Linked DNA regions of Homo sapiens. The protein of the gene in region 7 interacts with the protein of the main gene of each other region in a biochemical or structural test. Each region holds a gene or a part of one and is shown on either strand. Other genes may lie near its edges. The genes, in order: DLG4, USH1C, SYNPO2, RGS3, LDB3, SNTA1 and KCNA5.

Region 1 (4,059 bases), on a different chromosome or scaffold from region 7:
AGACAGGGCAGAGATGAAAGTGCCTGGAGGGAAACAGCACCCGCCACCCAACCTTCTCCCCAGGGTGCCAGAAGAGCCAAAGTTAGGTGGAAGGGAAGATATTCTGCCAGAGATGCCAGGGTGGGGTGGTAAGGGGATATCAGATCACAGTGACATCAGGGGTCAGGAATTTATAGGTGACATCAGAGGCTGGTTGTCCTAGGGGATAAAGGATTTGAACGTTATATGTCCTCAGTATGCCAGGGATGGGGAAGTCAAAGGGAGCATTAATATTACGCTTTGGGGGTTTTCTCTGGGTTCCTGTGTCACTCGAATCTCTTAATCCATAAAATTCTTCTCCCTCTTTTTTCCCCCCACCTCTCTGCCATCCATTCGTTGAAAAAACTAGGTCATTTGTCTAAAAGAATTTCCCACATTCTATGAGGGAAATTCTTTTGTTTTTTTGGGGTTTTTTTGAGAAGGAGTCTCAGGCTGGAGTGCAGTGCCGTGATCTTGGCTCACTGCAGCCTCTGCCTCCCAGGTTCAAGTGATTCTCATGCCTCAGCCTCCCAAGTAGCTGGGATTACAGGCGCGCGCCACCATGCCCAGCTAATTTTTGTATTTTTAGTAGAGACAGTGTTTCACCATGTTGTCCAGGCTGGTCTGGAACTTCTGAACTCAAATGATCCACCCGCTTATGCCTCCCAAAGTGCTGGGATTACAGGCATGAGCCACCTTGACCAGCCTATGAGGGAAATTCTAACAGGGAAATTACTGCTTACCCTCCTGTGGTTTGTTTAGCCTATGCCTCTGCCCCTGTATCTCCTGTAAACTGGCAGTTCATTCTGGAGGCTTGATCAGTTTCAAGTTCAATTCAGAGTTTTTTTTAGTAACTCCTGTATACTTCATAGGTAGCGCTACGTTCTTCCTACAGCATCACCACAGGATGCAATAATGCCTGGTTGTCTTTCTGTCAGGTAAGATTAATGGTAGGTTCAGGGTCATCAGCCCAGTCCATCCATTATCTAGCGCCCCATCAGCCTTTCAGGTAAGTTTTAGCCACACTGACAATCACCGCCTGGTTCTGATAAGTATCAAGGACTGCAAAATGGTGGTGATTGTCATTTACTAGTGGGAATTCTTCTGTAAAAAAGAAAAATCTCGACCAGGCACGATGGCTCATGCCTGTAATCCCAGCACTGTGGAGGCCAAGGCAGGCAGATCACTTGAGGTTAAGACTTTGAGACCAGCCTGGCTAACATGGTGAAATCCCGTCTCTACTAAAAATACAAAAATAGGCTGGGCGTGCTGGCTTACGTCTATAATCTCAGGTACTCGGGAGGCTGAGGCAGGAGAATTGCTTGAACCCAGGAGGCGGAGGTTGCAAGGAGCCAAGATTGTGCCACTGCACTCCAGCCTGGGTGACAGAGCGAGACTCCCTCTCAAAAAAAAAAAAAAAAAATTCCTCCAGCTTGGGTAACATGGTGAAACCCTATCTCTACAAAAGACAAAAGTTGAAAGTTAGCTGAGGCTGGGCGCAGTGGCTCACGCCTGTAATCCCAGCACTTTGGGAGGCCGAGGCAGGTGGATCACAAGGTCAGGAGTTCAAAACCAGCCTGGCCAAGATGGTGAAATCCCATCTGTACTAAAAGTACAAAAATTAGCTGGGCGCAGTGGCAGGGCCCTGTAATCCCAGCTACTCGGGAGGCTGAGGCAGGAGAATTGCTGGAACCCGGGCGGCAGAGGTTGCAGTGAGCCAAGATCGTGCCACTGCACTCCAGCCTGGGTGACAGAGTGAGACTCCATCTCAAAAAAAAAAAAAAAAAAGTTAGCTGAGCATGATGGCACTCGCCTGTAATCCCAGCTACTCGGGAGGCTGAGGTGGGAGGATCGCTTGAGCCCAGGAGGCGGAAGTTGCAGTGAGCCAAGATCACACCACTGCACTCCAGCCTGCTGGGTGACAAAGCAAGACCTGCCTCCAACAAAAAAAAAGCAAAAACAAAAACAAAAAAACAGCCCTATGTCAACCTGTTGGTTACTCTCTGAGGTAGCTGGTACATGAAAGGGAGGATAAATGCATGCCTCTCTCTGCATGCCTCTTTCCATTCATTCACCAATTTCAGAATGAATGAGATTGCCTAGCATCCTCCAATTTTTTTTTTAATTATTTATTTTTTTGGGATGGAGTTTCACTCTTGTCGCCCAGGCTGGTGTGCAGTGGTGCGATCTTGGCTCACTGCAACCTCTGCCTCCCAGGTTCAAGGGATTCTCCCACCTCAACCTCTCCAGCAGCTAGGATTACAGGCACCCACCACCACGCCTGGCTAATTTTTTGTATTTTTAGTAGAGACGGGGTTTCGCCATGTTGGGCGGGCTGGTCTCGAACTCCTGACCTCAGGTGATCCGCCTGCCTCAACCTCCCAAAGTGCTGAGATTACAGGCATGAGCCACCGCGCCCAGCCAAAATATTTTTAAGTATTATTATGATCTTAAAGATTTTAATATATTTAACGAGTTTTCACTGGACAGTAGAAGCACCTTCAGTTTGGATCCTGTGTCTTTGCTGAGACCCTATTAGTCCTGGATACCTTCCTTGCTCTCTAGTATGAAAGAAGTTAGAAGCTCATCTTACAGATTTATTGCCAAAGATTTTAAATTGGCTGGGCACGGTGGCTCAGGCCTGTAATCCCAGCACTTTGGGAGGCCGAGGTGGGGGGATCATGAGGTCAGGAGATCAAGACCATCCTGGCTATCACGGTGAAACCCCATCTCTACTAAAATATACAAAAAAATTAGCCAGGCGTGGTGGTGGGCACCTGTAGTCCCAGCTACTCGGGAGGCTGAGGCAGGAGAATGGCATGAACCCGGGAGGCGGAGCTTGCAGTGAGCCAAGATCGTGCCACTGCACTCCAGCCTGGGCGACAGAGCGAGACTCCGTCTCAAAAAAAAAAAAAAAAGAAAAGAAAAAAAAAGATTTTAAATTGACCCTTCTTCCAAGGAGCCCAGGTTCCTTTTGTTAGGTTATGGTATTTAGGAATAGTACCACATGATTTTAATATGGTTTTACAGTATTATTTCATATTTTGTAGGGGCTGCCACACCTCATTATTTGTTTCCAAAATGTCTTAGCTTTTCCACACAAATTTTTCCAGTCAAACTTTAGTGTCAACCTTCCAAGTTCCCAGTAGGGAAACAACATTAAAATTCTGATTAGGATTGAATGGAATGTAGATTAATTTGGAGCCGGTTGAGATCTTTAGCATATTAAGTTTTTCCATCCAGAGACACGGTGTGACTCCTCACCCCTTCCAGTCTTGTTTTATGTCTTTCAGTAAAGTTTTGTCATTTTCTTCATACAAATCTTACATTTCTTGTCAAGTTTCTATTTCTAATAATTTTATAGAAATTTTTTCTATGGCAAAAGGGGGCTTTTTATTCACTACATTTTCTTATTGCTGGGAAGTTACTAATTCCTGTTATTTATCTTACAAATAGCCACATTCCTTTTTTTTTTTGTCGTTTTTTGAGACAGAGTTTCACTCTTGTTGCCCAGGCTGGAGTGCAATGGCGCGATCTCAGCTCGCCGCAACCTCCGCCTCCCAGGTTCAAGCAATTCTCCTGCCTCAGCCTCCTGAGTAGCTGGGATTGCAGGCATGCACCACCATGCCCGGCTAATTTTGTATTTTTAGTAGAGATGGGGTTTCTCCATGTTGGTTAGGCTGGTCTCGAACTCCCAACCTCAGGTGACTCACCCATCTCGGCCTCCCAAAGTGCTGGGATTACAGGCATGAGCCACCGGCGCGCCCAGCCTGTTTTGGTTTTTTTTTTTTTTTTTTTTTGAGATGGAGTCTCGCTCTATCGCCCAGGCTGGAGTGCAGTGGTGAGATCTTGGCTCACTGCAAGCTCCGCCTCCCAGGGTCAAGGAATTCTCCTGTCTCAGCCTCAGGATTAGCTGGTATTACAGGCGCTCGCCACCACACCCAGCTAATTTTTTTTTGTATTTTTAGTAGAGACAGCGTTTCTCCATGTTGGCCAGGCTGTTCTCAAACTCCTGACCTCAGGTGATCCGCCCGCCTTGGC
Region 2 (3,568 bases), on a different chromosome or scaffold from region 7:
TATCCCCTGCCCCATTATTAGATGGTTAGAAGGTGTCTGTGTCCATCCTTCACTCTCTGGAAGGTCTTCCTGATGTCTAACTGCATTCACTCATACTGTGCCTCTAGGCAGCCGGGACCACAGGCTTTTGTCCCCACGCTGTGGGATCTCCAGGGAGCTTTGGCCTAGACTGTCTCTCTCTGTGATTCCCTGTGTGTCTGTCTCTTGTGTCCTGTGGGTCTCTCTGTCTTCTCTCCTCCTCCCTCTCTGTCTTTCTTTCACCCTTTCCTTCCTTCCTGTCAACATCTTATCTGCCCCCCTCCTTCCCCTTCATCCCGGTCCCCTTTCTCTCTCACTGTCTCCTATTCTTTCTTCCTGTTTCTCTTCATCCCTGTCTCTGAGTCCCTGTTCCTCTGTCCTTGTCATTCTGCATCCATTCTTACCTCTTTGTCTGCCTTTCTCTGTTTCTCTGCCTCTGTGTGGTGTCTCACCTCCATCCTCACCTCATCCCATCACCTCCCCAGCCCTCACCCACCCACCACTCACCCACTCACTGACCATGCCCTGCCTCCCTGTCGTGGCTGGGCCTGCTTGCTCCCCGTGCCCAGCAGAATCTGAGCTCTACACATGTCTTGGAGAAACCAGGGTCTCGCAGCTCCTAATTCTGGAACCCAGGGGCTAGGCAGAACCCGAGGCAGGAGCCCAGTGAAAGGAGAAGCCCCATGGAGCTCTGCCTGGGAGTAACCAAGCCTGTTTTGTGTTTCTTGCTCTGCTCTGTATATATAGAGCTTCTCTTCCCTCCTCCGTAGCTGAAAGCCCCCAACCGGTCCGAAAGCTCCTTGAAGACCGTGCTGCCGTGCACAGACACGGGTTCCTCCTGCAGCTGGAGCCCACGGTGAATAGGCAGGCGGGCCACAGGGCCCTGTGTGTCCCTGCTGCTTGCAGTGGCCATCTGCTGCCCACGCTGTCAGCAGGTTCTTTGGACTGGCGTCTGGAGGGTACACAAGGCGCCATCCCTGAAGTGCTGCCTGGGGCCTGCTGTTGGCCACAGTGGAATTCCTCAGACTCAAAGCCCTCCCCTCAGGGAAGTGGTGCAAAGCCCAGTCTGTAGTACTTGCTTGGGACCCAGGTGTCCTGACTCATCACGGCCCTGGGACCTGCTTTGGGTCCCAAGCAGCACCCAAATGAGCAGGATGAAGCCCTGGGCAACATTCTCTGAGGGACACAGACAATGCCTCGAACCAGGCATGTGGGGCTGAAGGAGCCCACAGGAAGCCTGGCTGGAATTGCCCCCAAGAGATGTCCTCAACAGAATGTGAAAATTCCCCTTCCTGTGAATGCCAACCTCCTGGGAGCTCTTGCTCCACCATGGCCCCCACACTTGGCCAGAACCAGGGCTATTAAGAGGTTTTGAAGGCTGGTCCAAAGAACCAGGGTTGGTGGATTAGAGTTGCTCATGTCCTGTTGTGCCCTGTCATGGCCTGAGCCGTGCTTAGACCAAACGGTCTTCTCTGCCTTCTCCCTTCCTTGGCTCTGGGCTCTATCTGTGGGATATACCGTGGAACCCAGCTGTAGGATGTGTTTCTCACCCTGTGATAGGGATGTGCCCGTGGACAGAGCTGGCAGGTGGCTGTGAAACTGGTGTTTGGTGTGGCCTGAAGCCACAGATGGCAGCATCTGGGGCAGACCCAAGCCTGGACTTGACTTTTCTGTTACAACTTTCCCAAAACATTAGGGCCTCATGCTCCCAAGACACTTGGCCGGGTAGACCATGGCTTCTGGGGTGGCCTGCATGGCCCTATGTTTTCTGTTACTTGCCTTTTGCAAAGGACTCTTGCCCCTGTTCCTCCCAGTCTCCTCCTTCCCCCATCCCAGGTGTCCCTCCCGCTTTCTCCCTGGCCTCCTGTGTGCTGTGGCTGTGGCTGGTGTGTAGCCACTTGGGGCCTGCACCCAGAGGGGTCTCCAAAGGGTGGCAGGGCCTTGTGCTGCCAGAGTGGGTACTCCCCCTTGTGGGGCCTTGCTCTGGCTGGGCTGAGTGTGCACCCACAAAGCCTGTATCCACCTGGGCTGTTTCCACTTCCCTGCAGGACCTTCTTCTGAAGTCCAAAAGGGGAAACCAAATTCACCGTTAGGAAACAGTGAGCTCCGGCCCCACCTCGTGAACACAAAGCCTCGGATCAGCCTTGAGAGAGGCCACACTACACACACCAGATGGCATCCTTGGGACCTGAATCTATCACCCAGGAATCTCAAACTCCCTTTGGCCCTGAACCAGGGCCAGATAAGGAACAGCTCGGGCCACTCTTCTGAAGGCCAACGTGGAGGAAAGGGAGCAGCCAGCCATTTGGGAGAAGATCTCAAGGATCCAGACTCTCATTCCTTTCCTCTGGCCCAGTGAATTTGGTCTCTCCCAGCTCTGGGGGACTCCTTCCTTGAACCCTAATAAGACCCCACTGGAGTCTCTCTCTCTCCATCCCTCTCCTCTGCCCTCTGCTCTAATTGCTGCCAGGATTGTCACTCCAAACCTTACTCTGAGCTCATTAATAAAATAGATTTATTTTCCAGCTTATAGGAGTGAGTGTGGATTTGGGCAGCAGATTCAAGGCTGCAAATCAAAAAACCATAAGGTTTGTGGCCCCTATTCAAGGGTGATAGACAGATCCCAGTGCTGTGATCTGGGTCTGACATGAAGGGTGTGATCAAATGGCCAGGGCTGGCTTGGAGCAGAGGTTGAGAAAGCAGGAGATGGGCTGGGCTGGGCTTCAATGTCTTCTCAGCAGAGATGGTAGGAGATGAAGTCTGTGTGGCAGGGATTTTGCTCAATTCCAGAAAGCAGAGCTGAAGGCAGGAGCCCCGAAGGGTCACCTCATGATATGGGGTGCCCAGCTTCTTTCAAGAACGACACAGCCACCAATGCTTCTCCTGAGGTCACCACGACAGCATGTGAGGGAGGAAGATGGCAGGGTCCACTCCCTCCGTGGAAGCACATCCCACAGAAGCTCATGGGAAATGCAAGGGCTTGAGGCAGGAAGGCATAACTCCGGGGGCCCAGCAGGGGGAATGTCACAGTTCTTCTGGTGACAGGGACCAGGGCTGCTAGCTCTGAGGAAGAGGGTGGGGCTGTATCAGCACGACTCGCCTGACCCCGTCTCTGTTTCCCCATTCCAAATTCCTGTGGTACAATCTGATCAGGCCAAATCACCTGAGCGGGCGACCCTTGGGTTAGGGACCAGTCACAGGTCCAATCAGCTGTGGCCGGGGGTGGGGTCACATCCCACCCAACATGGCTGCTGAGGCAGCAAGGACCGTGGGCAGCAAGTCATGATCACCACCCCTACCAGAGGATGACTATGACATCTCTCCTCCCCCACCAAACCCTGGGTATGGAAAGGAAGTGGACTGGGGTCCCAAGGGAAGGCAGTCTTAGGGAGAGTGCCTCTGTGTGAGGGGACCACAGGAAAACCCCTTCCTGAGGTGGGACACTGCAGAGAGCCCCTCGGGGACACACCCACTGCCCATCCCCCAGGTTCAGCCCTATGTTCAGCTGAATCCCCCACTTCATCCCACAGTGGATGCAGACTAAGCTGGA
Region 3 (4,655 bases), on a different chromosome or scaffold from region 7:
ATGCACAGCAATAGATGATGCTGTATGAAATTTCTCAGTGAGCCTGCTATATTTGTGGTGGTTTTGAACTGCATTGTGACAGGAGGTACTCCTTATAATTTTCCTTTTGCAAACATTTATTCCTTGATTGAATCCACCACCACTACAGCTGCCCTCACTCACTGATTCACCAAAAATTGGGTCCATGATTATCTTGTTTTTATTAATCTTTCTTAAATGCATGTGTAGCTGACATTTATTTCCATGTTTAATATTAGAAGTGTTTTAATCTTATTTAAAAGTTTGGTGATGTCTTTGTGACCAGAAATAGACTGTAGTCACTTAACCTTGTTTTTATCAATTAGTCGATGGTAAAATTGGTTTTAAAGTCACAGTTTCCATGAACCTATCTGTGACGTTTTAAGTGAGGACTTACTGTATATAGTGCTTCTTAGTGCTGAAACAGGCAGCGTGTCTGGAAATTTTGTTTGGTACCACAAGTAACACAAACAAACTTTCCCAGGCTCTTCCTTATTTAGTATGTTTTTATGTGGATGAATGTTATGGAAAACAAAAGTATTATAGGAAAATTAAAATGTCCTTTTTGTACATTTTTGGCAGATTGTATTCAGATTTAAAACATTTAAATATTTGGAATATACAAAATCTGCTTTTATATTGGACCACCCAGATTCATGACATGGGATGACAAACTATAAAAATAAGAAACCTGTAGGTGACATTGTACATTTTATGCAGTTGACTAACTGTTGGGTTTGGGTTTAAGAAGATCAGCAGGTAGAAAGAAAACAAAACACGTTAAAATTTAACATACCCAAAACTATGCAATAGATGTAATTATAAGAATGTAGTTTCCAGGAGAAAAATTCATATTCATTTTCTCTCTTTCTCTCTCCCTTTCTGTCTCTTCTCTTCCCCTTTCTCTAAATATATGGTTCAGAAAGGTACTTTTCAGAGCTGGAGGTTTATTAACAAAAAGTTTGTGCTTTCTTTTGTTTCCTCTTATAGGAATAATTCAGCAGAATGCAGACAGAAAAGTAGTAATTTAACTCATTTTAACTCTTTTTTGTCTATTCCATTCATAAATGTGGCAAGTCTCAAAACATTTATTTGAGAGAATCTAATCCTCTAGTAGTTGAATTCCCAACGCTCCTATTTTAGGACGTCATTCATGGCGTGGAGATTAAACCTTCATGTGTCCTTTACTATTTACAGAATTATTAAATGTAAGTTTTTCAATCATACTTATACCATTAACTGCTTGGATTTAATCTGTTAGTGCAAGATAACTTTGGCTCTCCCTTCCGTCCTCCTTTCCCTTATCTCGCCCCACGTGAGGACATTCTCCTGTGTGTGAAGCTGCTTTCCTTTCCTCGAAGGTGGGCCGAGCAAAGGAGAGTGACGCAAGAGTGGGCTGTGTCCTGGATGCTGCGAGCGCCTCTGCCTCCTTGAGAATGAGCCCATTAGCCGCACAAATTCGCAGCAGGCGGCTGGGGCGGCGGCTGGGGCAGCGGCTGCAGCAGCGGCGGACGCTCTGCATTACCCAGTCTTGCGTCCTCGGCAGGCGCCCGAAGCTGAGTGCGCATCCTCTACCGCACCCAAGCTTCGTCTGTCTCGTCAAGCTCTTCATGCTGCCCAACTAAAAGGAAAACATGGGCACAGGGGATTTTATCTGCATTTCCATGACTGGAGGGGCGCCCTGGGGGTTCAGATTGCAAGGTGGCAAGGAGCAGAAGCAGCCCTTACAAGTTGCAAAGGTAGGACCTGAACGAAGTGTCACGGCTCTGTGCTAGGAAGGAAGGAATGAAAGCAACCTGCTGATGGTGTTTTCAGGTTCTGATGCAGAAGTCTAAGTATTATTTGATTTTGCTGCGGATATTAAGATTTTTCTAGGAAGTGAGTTATTTTCTAAGAAACTTTGGAGAGTAATGGGCCACATCCTATGTAATTAACTTGCAATCGATGAGGGGTGGGTGGGAAGAATGCCATATTTATCAGCTGAGGAAAAGGCCTAGTTAACCATGTTCTTCTGACAACAAGCAAGACACTGGGGAGCGTTTCTTCCAGGCAATTTTAGAATGTTCAGTTGAGTTATTGTTTGATGTCACTTCACTTGGCTCTGGCAGAGGAGAAACGCTCAGTTCAGCATAACGACTTTGCTTGGCTATTTTGGGGACTCATATAGAGTGTTGGTAGTGACATTTATTATGCAGCATTCATGAAAAGGCCAATGTTGGGCAATAATTTTAAAAGTATGATGAAGTGTCATAAAATCTATTTAAAAGAATACCCTTTTAAGGATTTGACAAATAAATGCAAAAATCCAATAAATGCTGTATTCCTTCTTATGTACTCTTTTGGTCAAGATCTCAAAAATAAACTTAGAAGATAATCTAAATATATTATGAGTAACTAAGAGGTAACTTTGTAACACATTAATAACTATTTAAAATGCTTTAAGTTTTTATTGCCATTAGATTGCCTGCATTACTGGTTAGCCCAAGGGGATCTGGTATTCTCTAATTGGCATTCAGCTAAAATAAAACTTAAAATGCACAAAACTAAGCAAACTTTTACCTAACCTTATCATCAAATTGCAAATTATAGTATTGTATTGAAGAACATGCAAGAGCATGGGATTAATTTCCTATTTTATGCTTATATTAAAAATGGGTACAGATCTTTATGAAATACATGGGCCATTGCCTTTGTAGTTATTGTTTGTTTCCCTCTGGCTTTTACTCTTTTTTTTTTGTAGTTATTGTTTCCCTCTGCCTTTTACGTTTTTTTTTTTTTAGTGTCCTTTGCGAAGAAAGAAGTTTCTTTGAAACTCCTTTTTGCTTCCAGGCATCATATGTAAATCCTTTCGTAATGTGATGGTGGAATCCTGCCACCTAGTGAAAATTGCAAACATCAAGAATGAACCATAAAACAGTAGATGAAAAGCAGAGTTTTTATTACTGGAAAGTTCCTCCGAGGTCTGCAGTTCAACCCATGAATTTTAGATGAGGAAAGAGCCCAGAGATGTTAAGTAACTTGCCTTAAGTTTTCAGCTTGGAACTGGCAGAGTGATTAAAGGCTCAGAAAGGTGGTTTTGTTGGGTTCCTTTAGGAGTCAATAGCAGGCAACCTCAGATAAAATATGAATGCCCAATTTAGCATATGTAGAATTCATGACACTGAAGCAGATTTGTCCTGAGTCTAGAATAGCAGTTGGCTGGCTCTAGGTATGAGATTTGGGTTCTAATTCCAGCTCTGATCTAACTTGCAGCCTGGCCTTAGGAAAATCTCTCACCCTTCCTGTCTCATCGGTTTCTCTCTCTCTCTCTCTCTCTCTCTCTCTCTCTCTCTGTGTGTGTGTGTGTGTGTGTGTAGGGAGAGAGAGACAAATATTTTAACTTAGGTGGTAAAGAAGTAAGAAAGAAATTGGACTGTGCAGTCTACGAAGCTCTGTCTTGCCCAAGTATTCTACGATCCTGATAGTGTACAGTTTTAGAATCGCTTGCCTACTAATTGAAATATGGGGACAGAGTGGCTGAGTGCTGTTGTTCTCTGGTGGCTCTTTGGCAGCCAGGCCTCAAGAATAGAGTGGGTAGTGGGTTTCTTCTGAGTTCTGCATGTGACGATTTCAATGTGGGACCTCTTTGCGGCGATTCACTGAAGAGCTGAAGCAGATTGCTAGGAAAGGGTGCTGTGGAGATTCTCTGCTAATGGCATCTCTATTTTCAGGATTCAGTAAGGTTGTTAGGCTATGTCAGAATCCAGTCCTACACTCCCCCTAAATCATCCTTCCTAAAATACCCAGCAATACATTTGTGGTTTTCAAAAGATCATTATTAAGGCATCTAGATGTTTGCTTTGCTTTTGTAGTTTGTGATACTATACTTAGAGCTATAGATTTTAAAATATCATTATAAAAGTATCTGGAAGTTTGCCTTAATTTTTGTGTGTTTGTGTGTGCAAGAGAGAGAGAGAGACAGACTGTAGTCTACAGTCTACCTTTTGTCCATACGTTAAAAAGACTAAAGAGCTATCTATAGAAGATGTAAGTTCTAAATTACTGTGGCAATGCACAATTTTTGTTGGTCTTTTTCTTTTTTTAGTTCAAATGATTATGTTTGATTTCTTATACTAGCATTATTTGTGGGAGAAATCCCTTGGAACAAAGCGCTTATCACTTTCTCTGTTATCAAGGCCATTGCCTCATTAGGATCACTGTATTTTATTTAAAATATTAAGTCAATTCAATTCTATTCATGGTATCTCAATGTGTTCAAGGCAAAGTGAATGTTGCTTGGGCATAAACTTTCTCTTCTTGTAAGGACTGGTGATAGCTTATTAGGGCTGGATGCAAGGAAAGAGACAGAAAGGCTAGAGAGATGGTTGCTGTCAAATCAAATGTTCACAGTTTTGAATAACATGCACAAAATTAATTTGGGAGTTGAAGGAAAACTTAAATTTTCAAAGAAAAGAAAATTTCGGCGAGTGCTTGAACCATGCTCCTTAAAATGGGAATGCTACAAAGCAGTTCTGTAGACAATAACACATTTTGGCTTTTTGTGAAATATCTACATATTTAGGTTTTTCATAATTCTATATAGAGTAAAAATCTAACAGGCAGAAATAGTGCAAAAAAACAGTCTAATGTTATTAAGA
Region 4 (4,059 bases), on a different chromosome or scaffold from region 7:
CTCAGCACTTTACTATAAGCTTTTTATTTCTTTTACTCCTCACAATAACTCCGTGAAATGGTTACTACTTTTATCCCAATTTACAGGCAAGGAAGCTGAAGATTATTAAGAGGTAAACAGGTTGGCTGGGCATGGTGGCTCACACCTGTAATCCCAACACTTTGGGAGGCTGAGGCAGGATGATCACTTGAGGCCAGGAGTTTGAGACCAGTCTAGGCAACATAGCAAGACTCTGTCTCTCCAAAAACGTTTTTTTAAAATTAGCCGGACGTGGTGGTGTGTACCTGTAGTCCCAGCTACTCAGGAGGCTGAGGTGGGAGGATCACTGGAGCCCAGGAGGTTGAGGCTGTAGTGAGCCATGATCACACCACTGCACTCCAGCCTGGGCAACAGAGTGAGACCCCAACTCAAAAAAAAGAAAATAGCTAAAACAGGTTGTCCAAATCACACAGCCAGTAAGTGGCAGAGCTGGGGTTTGCATTTAGGCAGTCCAGGGCCCCCACTGTTAGCCTCTCTATACCTATCATGGGTTTAAAATTTGTCCACAAAGTCTTTGATACTCTTCCTTTCAAGAGGTGAAGCCTAGTTCCTCCCTTCAGACATGGGCTGGACTTAGTGACTTGCTTCTAACAAATAGAATGTGGTAGAAATGACAGTGGATGACTTTCAACATTAGGATATTAAAGGTATTATTAGTTCCTTCTTTTTTTAACAGCTGTATTGGGATATAATTAACATATCATACATTTCATCAGTTTTGTTTATTATTGAGATGGAGTCTCACTCTGTCGCCCAGGCTGGAGTGCAATGACATGATCTCAGCTCACTGTAACCTCTGCCTCCCAGGTTCAAATTATTCTCCTGTCTCAGCCTCCTGAGTAGCTGGGATTACAGGCATGCACCACCCACACCTGGCCAATTTTTTGTATTTTTTGTAGAGACAGAGTTTCACCATGTTGGCCAGGCTGCTCTCGAACTCCTGACCTTAGATGATCCACCCGCCTCAGCCTCCCAAAGTGCTGGGATTGAGCCACCGTGCACGGCCACACTTCACCAATTTAAAGCATGTAATTTTCTTTTAGTATATTCACAGGATTCTGTAATCAATCACCTCTATCTAATTTTAGAACATTTTCATCCTCCCCTAAAAGAAATCCCATACTCTTTCGCAGTCACACCCTATTCCCTTCTCCCCTCAGCCCTTGTCAACCACTAATCTGCTTTCTGTCTCTAAGGACTTGCCTATTCTGGATACTTATGTAAACAGAATCACACAACGCATGGTCTTTTGTGATTGACTTCTTTCACTTAGCATAATGTTTTCAAGGTTCACCCATATTGTAGCACGTATCAGTATTTTAGTCCCTTTGTGGCCAAATAATATTCCATTGTATGGATATACCACATTTTGTTTATCCACTCATCTGGTGATGGATATTTCAGGTTATTTCGACTTTTTGGCTACTATGAATAATGCCGTTATGAACATGTGTGTGTGTACACATGTTTGTGTGAGCATGTGTTTTCATTCCTCTTGGATTTATACCTAAGAGTGGAATTGCTGGGTCAAATGGAAACTCTACATTTAATTGTTTGAGGAACCGCCAAACTTTTCCAAAGTGGTTGCACCATTTGACATTCCGGCCGGCAGTGTACAAGGGTTCCAATTTCCCCTCAACTTCTTCAACGCCTGTTATTGGCTCTTTTTTTATTATAGTCATTCTAGTATGATAGTATCTCATTGTGGTTTTGATTTGCATTTCCCTGATAACTAATGACATTGAGCATTTTTTCACATGCTGTTAGCCATTTTTCTTTGGAAAAAAATGTCTATTCAAATCCTTTACCCATTTTTGAGCTGGGTTACTCATCTTTTTATGGGAGTTCTTTCTTGCTTTCATTTTTGTATCACTTGCCTAGAAGGAAGCCAGCTGCCACATAATAAGGAAGCTCAAGCAATCCTACGAAGAGGTCCATGCGATGAGAAACAGAAGCCTCCTAATTACAGGTAGCAAGGAACTGAGGCCTCCTGCTGAGAGCCATGTGAATGAGCCATCTTGGAAAGGGACCCTCCAGCCCCAGTAATGCCTGCTCGGACAACTGCAGGTAGGCAGGCAGGCAGGGAGAAAGAAAGGAGGGACGGAGAGAGAGAGCGGGGAGGGGAGGAAGGGACGGAAGAGGCAGGGAGGGAGGAGAAAAGGAGGGAGAGAGGCAGAAAGGGAGGGAAAAAAAAACAAAAACCAACTCAAAAAAGCTTAGAAAATATATGTAGGGGACTTCCATTTCTGGGATGACAGATCCACTGAGGAAAACTAGAAATGCTAAACAAAATATGTTAAAGCATCTTCTTAGATAAACAACAAGAGAGAGAGGAGCTACCAGGCAGGATCTAGGGGAATGGAGGACTGTAGAAGGAAACCTAGTGTTTTTCTGGGCTAATTTCCTCCTGGGGTGTTTTCAAATTCCAGAGGGCTGATTGAGAGATCAAGAGACTGAGTGAGTTTCTGCCTGCTTCTCAGGGCTAGAGGAATAGGAACTAGGGACCAGGGCCCACCAAGAAGCAGGGTTCTTCTGAGCCCCACCTTTTGCATAGGGACCCTGAAGGGTTGCTCCATAGGAATAGAGTGAACTGTAATCAGACACAGCTACTCCAGGGACTACAGCTCGATTTCAAGTACTCTCAGTCCCAACACTGAATTAAGACTAACCCAGTGACCCTAGGCACCTGACAAACGAACAAAGATTTTTTGAAGGAAAATATCATCCTAGGTCTGCATTGAGAAGAAAATAATAATAATAACAACAACTCTCTGCCTATACTGTTTGTTTGTTGTTTGTTTGTTTTGAGTCAGGGTCTCACTCTGACACCCAGGCTAGGGTACAGTATCACAATCACAGCTCACTGTAGTCTTGACCTCCTAGGCTCAAGTGATCCTCCTTCCTCAGCCTCCCAAGTAGCTAGGACCACAGGTGCACACCATCATGCCCAGCTAATTTTTTTATTTTTTGTAGAGATGAGCTCTCACTATGTTGCCCACACTGGTCTCGAACTTCTGGGCTTGAGTGATCCTCCTGCCTTGGCCTCCCAAAGTGCTGGGATTATAAGCATGGGCCACTCACCACTCCCAGCCATGTGCCTGTTCTTTGCAGCAGACACAGCACACCTACAATGTAGATCCAAAAAGGTTGAAAGAAAAAGGATGGAAAAAGATATGTCAGGCAAATATTAAATGAAAGAAGCATGGTTAGCTATGTTAATATCAGGAAAATTAGACTTTATACCTACTAGAAATAAAGAAGACTTCATAACAATAATAGATTTCATAATAAAAATTTCAGCTCACCAGAAAGATAATAATTCTAAATCTGTATGTTGTTAACATAGCTTCAACATATGTAAAGGAAAAACTGACAGAACTGCAATGGGAAATAGACAAATTTACAATCACAGTGGGAATTCTAATACACCTCTCTTAGGAACTGACAGAGAAAACAGGAAAAATCAACAAGGATACGGAATATTTGAACAATATAAAGAGCAAACTTGACCTAAACTTGACATACACAAAGAACACTGCACCCAACTGCTGCAGAATCCTTTTCAAATACACAAAGAACATTTATAAAAATTGACTCTTTGGGAGGCCAAGGCAGGTGGATCACCTGAGGTCAGGAGTTCGAGACCAGTGTGGCCAACATGGTAAAACCCCATCTCTACTAAAAATACAAAAATTAGCCAGGCATGGTAGTGGGTGCCTGTAATCCCAGCTACATGGGAGACTGAGCCAGGAGAATTGCTTGAATCCAGGAAGGGGAGGCTGCAGTGAGTTTACATTGCGCCACTGCACTCCAGCCTGGTGACAGAGTAAGACTCAGTCTCAAAACAACAACGACAAAAAAAAAAAAAAACAACTATATGCTGAGGCATCAAGTAAATTTTGATTAATTTCAAGGAATTAAAAGGATGGAGAGTATATTCTCTGACTAAAATGCAAAGTAAATATAAAAATATTACCAGAAAATCCCCAATATTTAGAAATTTAGAAATATACTTCTAAC
Region 5 (4,059 bases), on a different chromosome or scaffold from region 7:
GAGTCTCACTCTGTCACCCAGGCTGGAGTGCAGTGGCGCGATCTCAGCTCACTGCAACCTCTGCCTCCCGGGTTCAAGCAATTCTCCTGCCTCAGCCTCCCTAGTAGCTGGGATTACAGGCGCCCACCACCATACTCAGCTAATTTTTTTTGTAGTTTAGTAGAGACAGGGTTTCACCATGTTGGCCAGGCTGGTTTCAAACTCCTGACCCCAAGCAATCCACCTGCTTTGGCCTCCCAAAGTGCTGGGATTACAGGCGTGAGCCACCACGCCCAGCCCAAGAGATGAAATTCTATATCCCCATGATGACAACATATAGTCTGAGGCTGGAGGCATCCCAGAAAGAAGAGAACTAATTAATATTTGTGGGGACTACCATGGACCAAGCAGGATGCCAGACACTCTATATACAGCAGCTCATTTAATTCTCATGAAAACCTTATAAGGTAGGTAAGCCTTTCTCCCACTTCACAGCTGAAAAAACTGGGGCTCAGAGGGCCCATACGTCTTCCTTAAGTCACAGACCTAGTAAGTTGTAGGCTGGGAATCTCTGTCCATGTCTGTAAGACTCCAGTTCTATGCTAATTTTTCCCCTACCCCATAGAAGAAAGGGACTGTGTTTACTTGAAATTGATCTGGGTTCATGGGTTTGTACAGATGTAGCCCTCTGAGTTTGCTGGACTACTAGTATGTAAGCTGGGCCCTGGGTTGGCAATATGCCAGTAGGTCAGAGTCTGCCAGGAAATCACATTGGCTGGCATGGGTCCCAGCTTAGGAGAGGGCAGTGAAGATCCCTGCTGGGGGGCAGAATTGGGAGCCATCTCCAGGACACTGACATCAAGAGGAGTGCACGTGGAGTCCCCACATACAGGTATCCCCCATGGAGACAGAGAAATCACCCCCTTGAGTTGAGCTTGGGGCAATATGCATGTATTCAGTCCAAGAGAGTTGGAGAGGAAAAGGGCACCACGCTAGCCCCATGTGCAAGGCTCTGATGGTCCAGTTGGGGACGTTATACCTAGGATCACACAGGGCTTCCAATTGGGTTCTGGGAGCCAATGAGCTGCAAAAGTGTTTGAAAACATCCCAGGTGGATGCAGTGATGCTGAGTATAACCAGGCTCGTGTGGAGGCCTCAAGCTGCTGGTGACAATTTAAAGACTATGCAAAAAGATGGACATCCAAGATCTAACTGGTGAGAATGGGCTTTAGGGAAGACAGAAAGGCATCTCTGGAATGAGTCAGCCTGTCAATGACTGCAGCTGTGGGTGGGAGACCATACCTGGACTGGGACAATGCTGGTTGCTTGTGAGAACTTTGGGATGAGTCAGGCTGGGGAGAGAAGGTGTCCAGGGACTGAAGACCAACAAATGAGAAAGGGACAGAACCTCAAAGATGGCTCATAGGTGAGATGGGGCTGAGGGTGGGAACCCTCATAAGGAGTTGTGCCCAGTGTCTTCTTGGTGCAAGGTGGCTTCATAGTGGAGGAGGCCTTCTGCCCACCCAGCACAGGGGGCAACAGGGATGGTCCAACCCCCAGGCTCTGTGGCTGGGTGACATCAGGGCCTGGCTATAAAAGGGTAGCGACCATGGACAGTGCTGACTGCAAGTCCCAGCAGAGTTAGGGTAATAAACTAGGCCAGCTGCAGCAGCCCCTAGGTCTGCCTACAAAAGTTATATTACTGCCCATCCCCTCCTGATACCCACACCAGTGGGGAAGGGCAAGACTTAGAGCAAAAGAGGGATGGGTAAGACATTTTTCCTCCACTAAGGTCGGACCCTTTCCATTGGAACTCAAGTGTCGACGCCAGACAGAAGCTTAACTTTCACCCTGACCCACAGTGCACTTCTCAGGCTCCCAGCCTTCACTTTATATGCTTTGGACTTGAGGGATACTGTCCTGTTCTACTTTTGAATTGCTCACATCTGTTGCTTTGTTCACCTTTCAAGATTCTAGATTCCGTCAGGGTAGAGACTTGTTCTGGAACACTCTTGTACTGCCCAAATGCCAGGAATATTTGGTAAACTGAGTTAGTCTAAAGAATGTGCTATCCTGAGATCTCACTGGTTAGAAAACAGCACATCAGCTGGGAGAGCTACCCCAGATCTTTCTCTTACTAATTTTTTGGAAGTTACAGGAAAATACATGCTCATCAAAAGTGATTTGGAAATATGAAGTGATAGAAAGAGGACCAAAAAAAAAAAAATCCCTCAAGTCCCTCAAAGTTTTCCAATCAAAAGATTTCTTCCTAATGTTAAGACCATGTTCCGGCTGGGTGTGGTGGCTCACACCTGTAATCCCAGCACTTTGGGAGGCCGAGGTGGGTGGCTCATGAGGTCAGGAGTTCAAGACCAGCCTGGCCAAGATGGTGAAACCCCGTCTCTACTAAAAATACAAAAATTAGCCAGGTGTGGTGGCAGGCGCCTATAATCCCAGCTACTCAGGAGCCTGAGGCAGAGAATTGCTTGAACCTGGGAGGTGGAGGTTGCAGTGAGCCAAGATCGCACCACTGCACTCCAGCCTGGCGACAGAGCAAGACTTTGTCTCAAAAAAAAAAAAAAACAAAAGAACCATGTTCCACTTTGCTATATGTTGACAGAGCAGTGAGTATCATGCAGGCTGGTTTGGAGGGAGACCTAACGATCTCCATGTTGATCCTCTAAAGGGCAGTGCTATGGGCCTCTCACAGGCTGGACTTCACTCTCTGGAACTTATTTGTAATATCAGCCTTAGCCACCCCAAGCTTTACGCCTTCTTCTGGTCTCTCTCTTGGACTTTTGCTGTTGTGACTCAGCTGAAATTGCGAGGCTTGCAGAAGCAGACCCACACTCACCTTTGCCACGATTCCCTCTGCATGTGACACAGACCTCTCATCAGCCTGCCCATGGAAAACAGGCCTTCTGTGCCACTGTCTTCCTGGACCTTCCCCAAGTCTCTTGGATCCTTCCAGAAGTTGGGTAACCAGATGTGCAGGCAGTGCCTCAGGACTAGACAAGCCATGGCTTGAATGTAAGGTTCAGAGACCCCTGTGCTGTGCCTGACACAGGGGAGCTATGACTCTGCAGGGGACAAACCCAAAGCCAGTATACTTACACCATTGTCTCTTTTTGGAGGGGATGTATTTAAAACACCCTAAAAGACAACTAGAGAATCTGTTCAAAGAGCTAGAAAATCAGAGTGTTAAGGGGTTGAATTGTATTCCACAAAATTCACGTGCAAGAAGGCAGAGTTTGCCGTGAGCTGTGATCACGCCATTGCACCCCAGCCTGGGCAACAAGAGGGAAACTCCATCTCAAAAAAAAAATAAAAAAAAAAAGGAGACCCACACAGAGACAGACACACTCAGAGGAGAATGTCATGTGAAGACACACACAGAGGGGAGACAGGCTTGTGACAATGGAGGCAGGGATTGGAGTTACACAGCTGCAAGCCAAGAAATGCCAAGGATTGCTAGCAACCGCTAGTAGCTCGGAGAGAGACTATGGCCTCCTGTCAGCACCTTGATTTAGGACTTCTGGCCTCCTGAACTGTGAAAGCATTCATTTCTGTTGTTTGAGCCATCAGTTTGCAGTAATTTGTCAAGACAGCCCTAGCAAACCGACACACAGAGTGAATACAGTGTGTCCCACAGATGGCGGGGTATGGAAGCGAAGTGTGGAACCAAAAGTATATGGCCGTAAACTTTATGACTAGGGTCATCCTATGTCAGAAGTCTATAAAAATTATTCAAGTAAAAACTGTACAGATATTTCATACATTTCCAAAATTTACCTTGAGACACTCTGGTTAAAAAAAAAATAGTAGAGGTGTCTTAATTTTCCCAAATCAGCCAGGCGTGGTGGCTCACGCCTGTATTCCCACAACTTGGGGAGGCCAAGGTGGGTGAATCACCTGAGGTCAGGAGTTTGAGACCAGTCTGGCCAACATGGTGAAATCCCCTCTCTACTAAAAATACACAAAATTAGCCAGGCATGGTGGCATGTGCCTGTAGTCCCAGCTACTCAGGAGGCTAAAGCAGAAGAATCGCTTGAACCCAGGAGGCAGAGGTTGCAATGAACC
Region 6 (3,212 bases), on a different chromosome or scaffold from region 7:
TGAGGCAGGCGGATCACGGGGTCAGGAGATCGAGACCATCCTGGCCAACATGGTGAAACCCCATCTCTATTAAAAATACAAAAATTATATGGGTGTGGTGGCGTGTGCCTGTAATCCCAGCTACTTGGGAGGCTGAGGCAGGAGAATCACTTGAACCTGGGAGGCAGAGGTTGGGCCATTGCAGTGCAGCCTGGGTGACAGAGCGAGGCTCTGTTTCAAAAACAACAACAAAAACCCCACAAAATATATGAACACGTGTGTATATGTCACACTCGCTTGTTCCTATGCCCCATGAAGCCCCAGCAACTGTGGCTGGAGCCCAGCAGTGAGGGTTGCTCCTGATTCTCTCACGGACATCCCCCTGGTTTCTCCTGGTTTGGTGGTGGGTGGGGTTTCTTGGGCCAGGGTTGGGCAGCTGCAGCCTAATGGTCAGGTCCTTGTCTCCACCCATTTGTGCCTGCAGGTATCTGGAGATCTGCTCGGCAGATGGTCAAGACACCCTCTTCCTGAGGGCCAAGGATGAGGCTAGTGCGAGGTCGTGGGCGACTGCCATCCAAGCCCAGGTCAATACTCTGACGCCGCGGGTCAAGGATGAGCTGCAGGCACTGTTGGCAGCCACCAGCACAGCTGGGAGCCAGGACATCAAGCAGATTGGCTGGCTAACTGAGCAGGTACCTGCTGGGCCTGGGACCTATCCCTCTCTCTCTTCCGCTCCTTTGGAGCTGGCCCTGTTCCCAGTGCCCCTGGCCACCTCACCCTGCCCTGGCCCTCTGCCCTCTCTTCCCCCACCCATCCTCACTGCTGTTTTGTTCTCTGCAGCTGCCCAGTGGGGGCACAGCCCCCACCCTGGCCCTGCTAACTGAAAAGGAACTGCTCCTCTACTTGTCTCTCCCCGAGACCCGCGAGGCCCTGAGCCGGCCAGCCCGTACTGCCCCACTCATCGCCACCAGGTACCCACAGGCAGGGGCAGTATGTCTCCCCCAGAACTTGCCAGGAGATGCTCCAGCAGGGCCCCAGAAGCTGGGAACTCCAGCCCTGTCCACCCTCAGCTATTCCCCAGGTGACCTGAAGCAAGTCTCTGCCCTGTCTGGGCCTCAGTTTCCTCATCTGTAAAATGGGTGCTTGGAACAAAAGGATATAAGGTCCCCATTAGCCACTCATTCGCTGACACTTATGCCTTGTGCTGCATGGTTCAGAGGGCACAGAGCTGACCCCAACAGTTTCTGCCTCCAGAGAGAACCTTGTCTGGCTGGGGAGACAGACCCAGGAACAGCCATTACAGTGCAGGGTTTGTAGGAGCCACTTAACTCTGTTGGGGTAGTAGAGGAAGGCTTCAGGGAGGAGGTGACATTTGAGCTGGACTTTGATGGATGAGTAGAAGTTTTCTGTTTAAGAAAGGGTGAAAGAGCATCCCATGCAGAGAGAACATCATGGTCAAAAGTACAGAGGCATGAAGGGCTATAGCATGTTCATGGAGCTATGAGTTTGTGATAACCAGAATTCATGCAGGAAATGGAGAGAAGGGAGTTGGCAGGGCCTGATCTTGAAGAGCTTCTATTGCCTGATTAAGGAATGTTAGCTTTAGCTTAAGAGTTTGGTAGTGTTGAAGGGTTTAAGCTGGGGAGCGAGGTGCTCTGGTTGCTTTAAGAGAATCCCTGTGGCTGCCACGTGGAGAATGCAGCGGAGAGTGCAGGATGGAAGTGGGGAGGTGCTGCAGTCATGCAGGAGAGATGATGGTGGCTGGGGGAGGTGGAGGTGGGTGGCAGGAGCAGATGGGGAAGAAAGGCAGCATTGGCATTGGAAACCACATGGGTGTAAAATTAACAGGGCTCCGTGCTTGCCAGATGGGGCGGGTGAAGGAGGGGTCCGGAATGAACAGGAGGTTTGGAGCTTGTGTCTGGGTGAGCGTGGGACTGGGGGTGGGGGTGGAAAGGGAGGAGGCTGGAGCAAGATGCTGAGTTAAGTCCAGAGTGTGTGTGGGATGGAGAGGGAGCTTGGATAGGAAGCCTGGGGACTCGAGGGTCTGCAGCTCAGGGCTGGAAAGTCGAAGGCGGGTGTCAGCAGCAGTCTGTGGCGGGGGGAACTGAGCTATAGGAGAAAGAGTGGGTGGAGGGAGGAACAAAGAGGGATATGGGGCAGAACTTTCTGCCCCAGAGAGGGGCAGTTGGCTTACCAAGGCCACACAGCAAGTGAGAGTCAAGCTGCAGGGGTCTGAAGTCCTTGTCCCCCATGTCTCCTTACCTCAGGCTGGCTCTGGCCCGTGTGTCAGGAGCCTGCTGGCTACTAGGGATAACTAGGTCCTGGACTGTCTGCCTAATCAAGTGATTCAAGTTAGGCAACAAAAGTTTACTGAGCACCTACTGTGGGCAGGCATGGTTTTAGTTACTGGGAATACAGTGGTGAACACAAGATCAAAATTTCTAACCTAGTTGACATTCTAGTGAAAAAGACAGTCAAAAACCAACGAAAACAAATAATAAAAAGTATAATTTCTGGTACCATGATTAAAAAGTAAGGCTAGTGAGTGACAAGGGTGCTATTTTGGACTGGGAGGTCAGGGAAGGCTTCTCAGAGGAGGTGACATTTAAACTAACATCTGAAGGAAGTGAGGGAGTGAGCCGTGCAGATAATCAGGGAAGCATGTATAGGCAGAGGGAAGAGCATATGCAAAGGTGCTGAGGCAGGCATGTGCTAGGTGTGTGTGATGACACCAGTATAGCCAGAGCCAAGGGAGTGACGGGGAGGGTGGCAGGAGATGTCTCCTGCTGAGTCAATCAGTGCCCCCTGGCAAGTCCTGTCCTGTTAGGTGGTAAAGGATTTACAGGGTTTCTTCCCAGGTCACTGGCCCCTTTGCCCAGAACTATTTGCCTCCGGCCTGAGGCCTCATGCTCAGCCCTCTGCCCCCAACCCCCAGACTGGTGCACTCAGGCCCCTCCAAGGGCTCAGTGCCCTACGATGCAGAGCTCTCTTTTGCCCTGCGCACGGGCACGCGTCACGGTGTGGACACTCACCTGTTCAGCGTGGAGTCACCGCAGGAGCTGGCTGCCTGGACCCGCCAGCTTGTGGATGGCTGTCACCGGGCCGCCGAGGGTGTGCAGGAGGTGTCTACAGGTGTGCTGGGAGGATCTGGGAGTGTCCCTCTGGTAATAAGCCTCTTATCCCCAGGGGCATTCAAGCTTCCTTCTTTAGGGCACTTCAGGAGGGGATAGAAA
Region 7 (4,574 bases):
AACCCTGCAGGGGTTGAGACAGGGCAGGGGAAGATTTCCTAGTGTCCCAACCTAGAAAGATTAATATGTTATATCAGCCATCATCCTGCCTTCTGCAGCAGGGAACTAAAGTTCTCAGGCCAGATGTTGGAGTGAGGGAGTGCTTGTATCAGGAAAAGGGATTATGCATTTCTATAGAGGAGTGAAATATAGGGGACAAGGGCCAAACTCTGATTGTTTGAGTTTGAGTTCCAGCATCATCAGTTTCCACCTGCATAAGCCTGGGTGAGTCTGTCAATCTCTCTGTGCCTCAGTTTCTTCATTTATAAAATGGTGATGATAATAGTACTTACAAAATAGGTTGCTGTAGGAATACACAGAGACAATATTTGTAAAGTGCTGAGAGTGGGCTGGTGCATAATGAGAGCCAAGTAAGTATTGGTTGTTATTATTCCATTCTTGGGAATGCTCCAGCCTTGGAGATTGGACAACCTCCCTGGCTCCCTCTCATAAGCCACCTCCACCCTCAGTCTCCTTCATGGACCTAGATGCAGTTGCTCGGTCCAAGATTCACCAGGCAGGATTAGCCCTCACCAGGATTGTAAAAATCGCTTCTCCCCTTCCCTGCTGTGGTTTTTGCAAATGGGATTCGTTGGAGCGGGTGGAGGGGTTCTGCTGGGTTGAGACCAGACAGCTCATCTCCTGACTAGGCTGCTTGCCTGGGCTGCCACCAGGTCTGTACTGGAAACAGGCTAGGGCATGGGAATCCTGCAGGGTTCCAACCCCCTTGTACATTTTTGTGGATCTGTAGGAAGACGGGAAGAGAGATGCTTCTCCATTGATACATGTATTTCAAGGTCCGTAACTACGTGGCCCCCCTCCCTTCTGTAATCCTTCCCAAAGAAATACCGTTATTTCTCCAAAATAAAAAGGACTGGTGTCTCCCGTCTCTGTCTCTCATACTCCGACTCAGCTCAAAGCCTCGTCCCTTTAGCCCAAGGCACTTCGTTCCTCCTGGAGTCCACTCGGCTTCCAGCGGGTTCCCAGGTGAACTGAAATCCAGAGCTATTCTCATCTGGTTGCCCTGGGAATTTCAGCGCTGTCGGTACAACCTGTTCCTCCATCCTCCCCACTCCTTCCCTCCCTCCGCTGGGCTGCACCCTTCTCAGCCCCTCCTTTCCCTTGCTAGGGGCCCCAGCTGCGCCCTCCGGGGAGACACCCGCTGCCACGAGACCCGGGAGGGGAAGCGGGAGGAGGGGGAGAGGAGGGGAAGGCGGGGGAGGCGCCGAGGGTGGAGGCCAAGCGCGGCGCAGCCAGAGAGGGGCGGCTGAAGGTTGCATCTGCTGGAAGGAGGCTTTTCGGCTGCTTGGTAACGGGCTGCCAGAAGAGAGAGAGGCAGAGAGCAGGGCAGCGGCTTCTTGACGTCAGGGCCAAGCGAGGGGATCGCGCCAGCAACCCCAGCTCTCCCCAGAGAGGGGCCGGCCGACCGCTGGAGCGGAGCCTGACGCCAGGCGCCCGCGGAGCGTGAGTAGGGGGCGCGGGAGCCGGTCAGCTGGGGCGCAGCATGCCCTCTGCTCCCGCGCCATGGAGATCGCCCTGGTGCCCCTGGAGAACGGCGGTGCCATGACCGTCAGAGGAGGCGATGAGGCCCGGGCAGGCTGCGGCCAGGCCACAGGGGGAGAGCTCCAGTGTCCCCCGACGGCTGGGCTCAGCGATGGGCCCAAGGAGCCGGCGCCAAAGGGGCGCGGCGCGCAGAGAGACGCGGACTCGGGAGTGCGGCCCTTGCCTCCGCTGCCGGACCCGGGAGTGCGGCCCTTGCCTCCGCTGCCAGAGGAGCTGCCACGGCCTCGACGGCCGCCTCCCGAGGACGAGGAGGAAGAAGGCGATCCCGGCCTGGGCACGGTGGAGGACCAGGCTCTGGGCACGGCGTCCCTGCACCACCAGCGCGTCCACATCAACATCTCCGGGCTGCGCTTTGAGACGCAGCTGGGCACCCTGGCGCAGTTCCCCAACACACTCCTGGGGGACCCCGCCAAGCGCCTGCGCTACTTCGACCCCCTGAGGAACGAGTACTTCTTCGACCGCAACCGGCCCAGCTTCGACGGTATCCTCTACTACTACCAGTCCGGGGGCCGCCTGCGGAGGCCGGTCAACGTCTCCCTGGACGTGTTCGCGGACGAGATACGCTTCTACCAGCTGGGGGACGAGGCCATGGAGCGCTTCCGCGAGGATGAGGGCTTCATTAAAGAAGAGGAGAAGCCCCTGCCCCGCAACGAGTTCCAGCGCCAGGTGTGGCTTATCTTCGAGTATCCGGAGAGCTCTGGGTCCGCGCGGGCCATCGCCATCGTCTCGGTCTTGGTTATCCTCATCTCCATCATCACCTTCTGCTTGGAGACCCTGCCTGAGTTCAGGGATGAACGTGAGCTGCTCCGCCACCCTCCGGCGCCCCACCAGCCTCCCGCGCCCGCCCCTGGGGCCAACGGCAGCGGGGTCATGGCCCCGCCCTCTGGCCCTACGGTGGCACCGCTCCTGCCCAGGACCCTGGCCGACCCCTTCTTCATCGTGGAGACCACGTGCGTCATCTGGTTCACCTTCGAGCTGCTCGTGCGCTTCTTCGCCTGCCCCAGCAAGGCAGGGTTCTCCCGGAACATCATGAACATCATCGATGTGGTGGCCATCTTCCCCTACTTCATCACCCTGGGCACCGAACTGGCAGAGCAGCAGCCAGGGGGTGGAGGAGGCGGCCAGAATGGGCAGCAGGCCATGTCCCTGGCCATCCTCCGAGTCATCCGCCTGGTCCGGGTGTTCCGCATCTTCAAGCTCTCCCGCCACTCCAAGGGGCTGCAGATCCTGGGCAAGACCTTGCAGGCCTCCATGAGGGAGCTGGGGCTGCTCATCTTCTTCCTCTTCATCGGGGTCATCCTCTTCTCCAGTGCCGTCTACTTCGCAGAGGCTGACAACCAGGGAACCCATTTCTCTAGCATCCCTGACGCCTTCTGGTGGGCAGTGGTCACCATGACCACTGTGGGCTACGGGGACATGAGGCCCATCACTGTTGGGGGCAAGATCGTGGGCTCGCTGTGTGCCATCGCCGGGGTCCTCACCATTGCCCTGCCTGTGCCCGTCATCGTCTCCAACTTCAACTACTTCTACCACCGGGAAACGGATCACGAGGAGCCGGCAGTCCTTAAGGAAGAGCAGGGCACTCAGAGCCAGGGGCCGGGGCTGGACAGAGGAGTCCAGCGGAAGGTCAGCGGGAGCAGGGGATCCTTCTGCAAGGCTGGGGGGACCCTGGAGAATGCAGACAGTGCCCGAAGGGGCAGCTGCCCCCTAGAGAAGTGTAACGTCAAGGCCAAGAGCAACGTGGACTTGCGGAGGTCCCTTTATGCCCTCTGCCTGGACACCAGCCGGGAAACAGATTTGTGAAAGGAGATTCAGGCAGACTGGTGGCAGTGGAGTAGGGAATGGGAGGCTTGCTGAACATGGATATCTACATTATACCGCAGAGTATTTGAAGTCACACTGTAACCTCAGTCTACCCCTCTCCTTTCACTCCTTTCCTCCCTCCCTCGATCCCCCCATTTTCTCTATTCTTTCCATGACACCCAAGGGTCGCCTATTTTTAAAAAGTACCACATTCCATGACGCAGGAGCTGTGGAAATGGTGAGCGCTGTGAGATGGATGTATTTGTAGCCAGTCTCCTATACCCAGCAGAGGGATAACCCAAACAAAAATGACTCTAAATAGCCCAGATCCCAAGAGATTATGTAACTCCTCCATCCATGTGTTCCAAATTTGCTTTACATATGATTGTATTTGTGTATAGGGGAAAATATTATTTTTATGCCTGGTAAGTGGCTTTTTGTACTGTAGTTCAGATAGAGATATTTTGGGTATATTTTCAAGATACATGTTGTATTTATGGAAGAAAGAGTTGTCCTGATGTTTTTCTGTGTTACTTATATTAGAGTCAGAGATCTTGGTATGGGCTGTTCTGTTTCCTGTGTCTCCAAGCCTCTGTCTTTTCTGGGATGTGGTATTGGTGCTTTGTGTCTAGGGCAGAGTATGTTCTTGAAGAAAGGCAAATCTGACTTTTTCTGTGCGCCTTAAACAATTCTTGTAACTTTCTTCAAAAAGCATTTTAATGATATTGGAGGAATACTTCTGATAATTTATTGTCTTTATTTTTATCCCAGGAAATAAAAGGTTACCTTGTTGAGGCAAGTGTTAGTTTTTCTGCAGCTGATACATTTTCTGAAATTTTTAAAAATAGTCTGTCACTGGCTGTTTCTGGTTTTGACATCAGAGCAAACGCATTGACTGGGGTTAGAGGAAATCTGAAAAGCTCATGATTTGCTTGGCGACGTCTTTTCAGTGCACCCCTTGGTGCCTCATAGACAATGGTGGGTGAATTTTGTCCAGGCTGTTTATGGCACGGACGCCCCTGTGAGATGCTCTCTGAAGCAGTAGTATCAGCCCTTATGGTCAGCCTGGAGTAGGGAGGGCACTTAAAGGAAAAAGGGGATCAGACCCCTGACAGTCTTATTGGGTCTCCCGGCACTGGCTTTCATTCCTTTGTTTGCAGGTTTTCAGC

What was found.
Region 1: the proteins of KCNA5 (region 7) and DLG4 form a complex in vitro, tested with the Homo sapiens proteins (2 studies listed by BioGRID and IntAct, with this or other methods).
Region 2: the proteins of KCNA5 (region 7) and USH1C interact in a test that uses a peptide from one of them, tested with the Homo sapiens proteins (one large-scale study listed by IntAct).
Region 3: the proteins of KCNA5 (region 7) and SYNPO2 interact in a test that uses a peptide from one of them, tested with the Homo sapiens proteins (one large-scale study listed by IntAct).
Region 4: the proteins of KCNA5 (region 7) and RGS3 interact in a test that uses a peptide from one of them, tested with the Homo sapiens proteins (one large-scale study listed by IntAct).
Region 5: the proteins of KCNA5 (region 7) and LDB3 interact in a test that uses a peptide from one of them, tested with the Homo sapiens proteins (one large-scale study listed by IntAct).
Region 6: the proteins of KCNA5 (region 7) and SNTA1 interact in a test that uses a peptide from one of them, tested with the Homo sapiens proteins (2 studies listed by BioGRID and IntAct).

The regions. Positions count from the first base shown.
Region 1 is NC_000017.11:7,197,060-7,201,118, forward strand, and holds part of DLG4 (disks large homolog 4), read right to left. Parts: intron 1-4,059. UniProt on the Homo sapiens protein: Postsynaptic scaffolding protein that plays a critical role in synaptogenesis and synaptic plasticity by providing a platform for the postsynaptic clustering of crucial synaptic proteins.
Region 2 is NC_000011.10:17,492,875-17,496,442, reverse strand, and holds the end of USH1C (harmonin), read left to right. Parts: intron 1-765; coding exon 766-874; coding exon of another isoform or gene 875-1,090; exon of another isoform or gene 1,091-2,030; intron 2,031-2,066; coding exon 2,067-2,111; 3' UTR 2,112-2,543; downstream 2,544-3,568. UniProt on the Homo sapiens protein: Anchoring/scaffolding protein that is a part of the functional network formed by USH1C, USH1G, CDH23 and MYO7A that mediates mechanotransduction in cochlear hair cells. Required for normal development and maintenance of cochlear hair cell bundles.
Region 3 is NC_000004.12:118,887,385-118,892,039, forward strand, and holds the start of SYNPO2 (synaptopodin-2), read left to right. Parts: upstream 1-1,469; 5' UTR 1,470-1,652; coding exon 1,653-1,757; intron 1,758-4,655. UniProt on the Homo sapiens protein: Has an actin-binding and actin-bundling activity. Can induce the formation of F-actin networks in an isoform-specific manner.
Region 4 is NC_000009.12:113,469,751-113,473,809, reverse strand, and holds part of RGS3 (regulator of G-protein signaling 3), read right to left. Parts: intron 1-4,059. UniProt on the Homo sapiens protein: Down-regulates signaling from heterotrimeric G-proteins by increasing the GTPase activity of the alpha subunits, thereby driving them into their inactive GDP-bound form.
Region 5 is NC_000010.11:86,727,090-86,731,148, reverse strand, and holds part of LDB3 (LIM domain-binding protein 3), read right to left. Parts: intron 1-4,059. UniProt on the Homo sapiens protein: May function as an adapter in striated muscle to couple protein kinase C-mediated signaling via its LIM domains to the cytoskeleton.
Region 6 is NC_000020.11:33,410,034-33,413,245, reverse strand, and holds part of SNTA1 (alpha-1-syntrophin), read left to right. Parts: exon of another isoform or gene 1-463; coding exon 464-671; exon of another isoform or gene 672-819; coding exon 820-950; coding exon of another isoform or gene 951-1,060; exon of another isoform or gene 1,061-2,914; coding exon 2,915-3,111; coding exon of another isoform or gene 3,112-3,143; exon of another isoform or gene 3,144-3,193; intron 3,194-3,212. UniProt on the Homo sapiens protein: Adapter protein that binds to and probably organizes the subcellular localization of a variety of membrane proteins. May link various receptors to the actin cytoskeleton and the extracellular matrix via the dystrophin glycoprotein complex.
Region 7 is NC_000012.12:5,042,585-5,047,158, forward strand, and holds KCNA5 (potassium voltage-gated channel subfamily A member 5), read left to right. Parts: upstream 1-1,294; 5' UTR 1,295-1,563; coding exon 1,564-3,405; 3' UTR 3,406-4,204; downstream 4,205-4,574. UniProt on the Homo sapiens protein: Voltage-gated potassium channel that mediates transmembrane potassium transport in excitable membranes. Forms tetrameric potassium-selective channels through which potassium ions pass in accordance with their electrochemical gradient.